2 separate regions of the Homo sapiens genome follow, and region 2 is linked to region 1. The links come from fine-mapping of genetic effects on gene expression. A gene starts in region 1. The other region holds a variant in brackets. All regions are shown on one strand. Distances are between the middles of the regions. Region 1 holds the start of RRP36 (ribosomal RNA processing 36). Region 2 overlaps CNPY3-GNMT (CNPY3-GNMT readthrough).

Evidence for each region. PIP is the estimated chance that this variant, and not a neighbour inherited with it, causes the effect. A credible set is the group of variants that fine-mapping cannot tell apart.
Region 2: its variant is the best candidate, but not a certain one, in a credible set for the expression of RRP36 in B cells (Fairfax 2012, PIP 0.89).

The regions. Positions count from the first base shown.
Region 1 is chr6:43,020,375-43,023,284 of GRCh38, reverse strand. It overlaps RRP36 (ribosomal RNA processing 36), which reads right to left and starts at 1,662. Exons shown (of 7, transcript NM_033112.4): 1 at 1,501-1,662. The coding sequence starts at 1,630. KLHDC3 (kelch domain containing 3) reads right to left here. Exons shown (of 11, transcript NM_057161.4): 11 at 1,991-2,618. The coding sequence ends at 2,552. RefSeq lists enhancers at 647-1,378, 1,761-1,810, 1,871-1,980, 1,379-2,110 and silencers at 1,461-1,530, 1,541-1,590, 1,601-1,670.
Region 2 is chr6:42,952,043-42,954,952 of GRCh38, reverse strand. The region is part of intron 1 of CNPY3-GNMT (CNPY3-GNMT readthrough); the gene reads right to left. Among named protein-coding and RNA genes, the nearest start is that of GNMT, 7.3 kb to the left of the region's middle. The variant T/A (reference allele first, on the strand shown) is at 1,201.

The sequences.
Region 1 (2,910 bases):
TGGGAATACAGACGTGGGCCACCACCCTGGCTAAATTTTTTTATTTTTAGTAGAAAAGCGGGTCTCATTATGTTTACCAGGCTGGTCTTGAACTCCTGGGCTCAAGCGATCCTCCTGCTTCAGTCTCCCCTGGTGCTGGGATTACAGGTGTGATCCACCACACCCGGCCAGGATAGGAGTGTTTGACTACTTTATTCACAACTATCTCCAGCAGCTAGAACTGTGCCTTAACAAAAAGCCTGCAGCATTTGCTGGGCACAGTAATCCTGTAATCCTTGGGAGGCTGAGGCGGGTGGATCACTTGAGCCCAGGAACTGGAGACCAGCCCTGGCACCTGGTAACATGATGAGACCTGGCTGGGCGAGGTGGCTCACGCCTGTAATCCCAGCACTTTGGGAGGCCGAGGCGGGCGGATCACGAGGTCAGGAGATAGAGACCATCCTGGCTAACACGGTGAAACCCCATCTCTACTAAAAATACAAAAAATTAGCCGGGCGTGGTGGCGGGCGCCTGTAGTCCCACTACTCGGGAGGCTGAGGCAGGAGAATGGCGTAAACACGGGAGGCGGAGCTTGCAGTGAGCTGAGATCGCGCTACTGCACTCCAGCATGGGCAACAGAGCGAGACGCCGTCAAAAAAAAAAAAAAAAAAAAGGTGAGACCTTGTTTCTACATTAAATAAATAAATAAATAAATAAACAAACCCATCCGTGCAGGCGTGGTGACGCGCCTGCAGTCCCAGCTACTCGAAAGGCTGAGGTAGGAGGATCTCTTGGGCCCGGGAGTTCGAGGCCGCAGTGAGCCGTCATGGTGCAACTACACTCCAGCCTGGGCTACAGGGCGAGACTTTGTCTCAAAAAAATAAAAAATATAAAAAATTTAAAAAACAGGCTGGGCGCAGTGGCTCACGCCTGGAATCCCAGCACTTTGGGAGGCTGAGGCGGGCGGATCACGAGGTCAGGAGATCGAGACCATCCTGGCTAACAAGGTGAGACCCCGTCTCTACTAAAAATACAAAAAATTAGCCGGGCGTGGTGGCGGGCGCCTGTAGTCCCAGCTGCTCTGGAGGCTGAGGCAGCAGAATGGCGTGAACCCGGGAGGCGGAGCTTGCCGACATCGCGCCACTGCACTCCAGCCTTGGCGACAGAGAGAGACTCCGTCTCAAAAAAAAAAAATTAAAAAAACAAAGTCTACGGAATCTGCTGAATTCTGATCTACTAAGCCTTCAGCAGCCATGCATGCCTTTTCCTGCCTCCATGCTATTGCACATACGTTCCCCATCGCCGAAAACCCTCATCCTGCCGTGAAGAAACTTCTCAGGATGTCCTAATCCCGGAAGCATCTACTCTCACCCCCCACTTTCCACTGCACTGGGGGCACCCCTAGTGTAGCGTCTGCCTCTTAGAGAACTTGGCAGTCTTACCGGCACCGTCTCTGCAGGCTCAGGGCCCCGCCTGGGAATCTCCTTCCCCTCCCCAGCCCGCCCTGCCCCATGCCCTCACCCCTCAATAGGTCGCGGGCCACGGCCGCGGGCTCCAGGCCCCCGCCGTCCTCCTCGCGGTCCCGGGCCCCGCGGGGACGTCGGGCCCCGGCCCCGGCCCCGGCCCCGGCGCGGTAGTTAGCTCCCGGCATCAGCTGGCAGTAGCGCTCGGAAGACGAATGGCGCCGCTTCCGCTCACGGCAGCCCCTGCCCCGCCTCTTCCGGCGTTCCCGGTCTCAACGTGGTGACGAATGGGCAGAAAACTGCGCGGTCGAGGGCCAGGGAGCCGGGCCCAAAGGATAACCCGCTCTGGAGACATTGTCGCAACCTTCTGCCCGAGTCGCAGGGTGCTGGGTTCCACGCCCGAGAAGCTTGGACCAGGCCTTGGTGGCATTTGGTTTCCTAATACCCTTGGCTGAGAAGCCAGAACCTCAGGGTGCTTGTCCTCGGCACCCTGCCCCCACTGCAAACTCCAGCCTTCTCCACCATATTCCACAAAAACACACAACACGTTTGGAGATTTTAATTAATTTTTATAAAATCTGAGCTGGCTGAACTTCAGAGTACAGCGACAGCTCAAGGAAGGGTGGGATTTATCTGCTGGTCCCCACCTCCCCAAGACGGGGAGAAGGAGGTCTCATGCCAACAGCTGCAACTCCTTTCAGCTCCCAGTCAAGGCTCAAGGCTCAAGCAGAGGGGAGGGGATAGGCAAAGGGGGAGGGGGAAGCTCCTGAGGCTCAGACACTGCTTGCTTCTCCCTTCTCCCCATTCCCTTCCCTTCCCAGCAGAACCTGGCTGGCCCTGGGCAGAGCTGAGGCCCAGGAGCAGCTGAAAGGAGGTGGATGGGGACAGAGCACCAAGGGGAAGGGGCCCTCGGCCCAAGGGGGGAGGAACCTAGCCCCCACCCCGCTACAGCTCCCCACTGAATTCACAGCACAGAGAACACCTCTCGCCCAACAACTCCACATGGAGGTATACCAAGTCCAGGGGTCAAAGGAGCAGGTGGGTGACAGATGGGCAGGGGCAGTGAAGATGACAGCAGGCTCAGGAGGGGAGGTGGCAGAAACTTCCTCCTACCCATGGGAGGAGACGATGGGGCGACTGATATTGCTGTTGGTGGTCATGGCATTCAGCTCCCACCTGGAAGGCCAACAATAAGAGACAGAAAGAAGAGGGGGCCCTCAGCCCAAGCTAAGGGATGTTTGAACCAAGCTAAAAACACACCAGTCTCTCCAACTTCCTAAAGGTCAACCACCCACAGCCACCTCTTACTTAAGAGACCTACTAGGTTGAACAATCAGAACCCACCCACCACCAAATCCAACACCACCCACTCCTCTACCTCCAAGCTCATATGGATTTCCGGTTTATGTTTATGTATGTATGTATATTGCAGTGTCCAGGCACCTGAGATCTGTGTATACATGTCAGT
Region 2 (2,910 bases), 68 kb after region 1:
ATATATTAAATGTTTAATATTAAATATAAAAAAAATTAAAAAAGAAATGCTTGTTCCCCAGTGCCGTAAAGAAATAGCACTTGAACATAAATTCAATTTCCTCAGGAAGGCCATTTTTACTTTCTGCAGAAAGGGTACCCTCGTCAGCAGTTTTGCCATGAGAGTACACTGAACAAAGGAGACAGGGTCATTTATAACCTGACGCGTCCACCCTACTGCTGTGTCCGGTTTCCATTGGCTGGAATGGGACTTCACATTTTGTATTTGTCCCGATTGGCTAGCAACTTAGAACTTTTAAAAGAGGCAAAGGCAGAGGAGAACAAAGGAAGGGGAAGTAACTTGTGGAATGCTGAGAAAGGTAAAAACACCTTCAAATAAGGATGAGGAACAGGCTATGACCTAATGTTTGTTTGGACCAGTATAAGCATGCCAGGGCAAATATTTAGGCTACATTGTGGGAGCTAAGAACATAAAGGACATTGATTTCTTTATTATGACTTGCAGATATTTAAGAATGTCACCACAGATCTTTGAATAAATTTTGCTTCTAAGAGAAGTTACTATTTATCCCTAATTAGATGGGGAGGAAAGTCTTTGAAGAGGAACCTCTACTTTTTATAATAGCGATTCTCCTACCTCAGCCTCCCAAGTATACAGGTGCTCGCCACCACATCAGGCTAATTTTTATATTTTTAGTAGAGACGGGGTTTCACCATGTTGGACAAGCTGCTTTCTAACTCCTGATCTCAGGTGATCCGCCCGCCTCAGCCTCCCAAAGTGCTGGGATCACAGGCGTGAGCCACTGCGCCTGACCGAGGATGGCATCTTTGATGTAAATAAGCTTTTCCCAAATTCACAGATTAAGACTTCTACTGTCATAAAACTCTTATCTTTCAATATTTGTTCTTGCTTATGCCTCTATGAACAATAAAAGTGGAAAAGGCATCTGTTATGTGCACTAATGGGATGTACTTTTATTTGTGAAGGAGTTTGCAGCCAACCTTATATATGGATAACTTTATACTTTAATAGATAAAAAATGAAGGCCCAGTGCAGGTAAAAAACTTTAATGGGGCCAGGCACGGTGGCTTATGCCTGTAATCCCAGCACTTTGGGAGGCCGAGGCAGGTGGATCACCTGAAGTCAGGAGGTTGAGACCAGTCTAGCCAATGTGGTGAAACCCCATCTCTACTAAAAAAA[T/A]ATATATATATATATACATAAAAATTAGCTGGGCATGGTGGTGCACCTGTAATCCCAGCTACTCGGGAGGCTGAGGCATGAGAATCGCTTGAACCCGGGAGGCAGAGGTTGCAGTGAGCCAAGATGGTGCCATTGCACTCTAGCCTGGGCAACAAAAGCGAAACTTCGTCTCAAAAAAAAAAAAGTATCCCTCATGATGGGTTCTATAGCAAATTCTACTGTAAAGGCTACAGTTATACAATAGACTTTAAATTCTCTTGTGAAAGTTAAGATAGAATTGGCTAAACAGAGAAGTATCTGTGCAGCTGCTGGCACTTGTGGCCTACGGAGAAATACATCACATGAAGATTATAGAAATATAGTGGTAGGGGATTAACAAAGAGACTGCTTAGTCAAATGAGTAAACTTTTTTTTTTTTTTGAGACGGAGTTTTGCTCTTGTTGCCCAGGCTGGAGTGCAATGGCACGATCTCGGCTCACCGCAACCTCTGCCTCCCGGGTTCAAGCGATTCTCCTGCCTCAGCCTCCCGAGTAGCTGGGACTACAGGCATGCACCACCATGCCTGGCTAATTTTGTGTTTTTAGTAGAGACGGGGTTTCACCATGTTGGTCAGGCTGGTCTTGAACTCCCGACCTCAGGTGATCTGCCCATCTCGGCCTCCCAAAGTGCTGGGATTACAGACATGAGCCACCACGCCCGGCCATGAGTAAACTCTTTATCTAGTTCATTCTTTGATCTATGTGATTTTAGGTGGTTTGGTTTATGGGGAACCTGGGTAAGGAGCATACTCCAAACTCTTGGTATCATCCTCCCGATAGTCATAATAATAGTCTCCCTGGTGCGCTCTATTCTCTCAAAGGTTTTAAATGCTTGCGTGCAGCCATCTCTAGAATGTCAAATGGTCTCTCTTCAACTGGAATAACAGGAGCTAAAAAAATGTGCAACCATAAGGACACTATAAGCTATAAATGATGTGCTGAGATAGGAAACCCAAAATGATGGTAACTGAGAGTGGCGCTAAGTCCCTAAGGTTTGGTCACACTCTCACTTAAATGACAGCCTAACCAAAAAGGGTAATTTTTTAAACAAAATTATGGAAGGCCATTGTTTTGGACTAGGCTCATGCACTAGGCCTCAACAAACCAAACCAAAATGGAGTCGCTCATGCTAGGACTTTAAGGAAACACATAGATTCTAAAACAGACCAAGTTTTTTTTCTCCTGCAAATCTCTATGACAAACCTTTCTTTTTTTTTTTTTCTGAGACGGAGTCTCACTCCCTCGCCCCCAGACTGGAGTGCAGTGGCTCAATCTCAGCTTATTGCAACCTCCACCTCCCAGGTTCAAGCAACATTCCTGCCTCAGCCTCCTGAGTAGCTAGGATTACAGGCATGCACCACCCCGCCCGGCTAATTTTTTTGTATTTAGTAGAGACAGGGTTTCACTATGTTGGCCAGGCTGATCCTGAACTCCTGACCTCGTGATCTGCCTGCCTCGGCCTCCCAAAGTGCTGGGATTACAGACGTAAGCCACTGCGCCTGGTCAATATAACAAACATTTCTAACAGCATAGGTATCCACCCCCTGCAGTTCCCATTAAATGTTTTAACCAAATTCATTTCCTCTTGCCTAGAGACCATCAAGCTTCAGCTGATCATGCAACAAAGCTTCCAGCCAGTTCCAGGTGAAGACATCACCCCTGGCCATCAAAA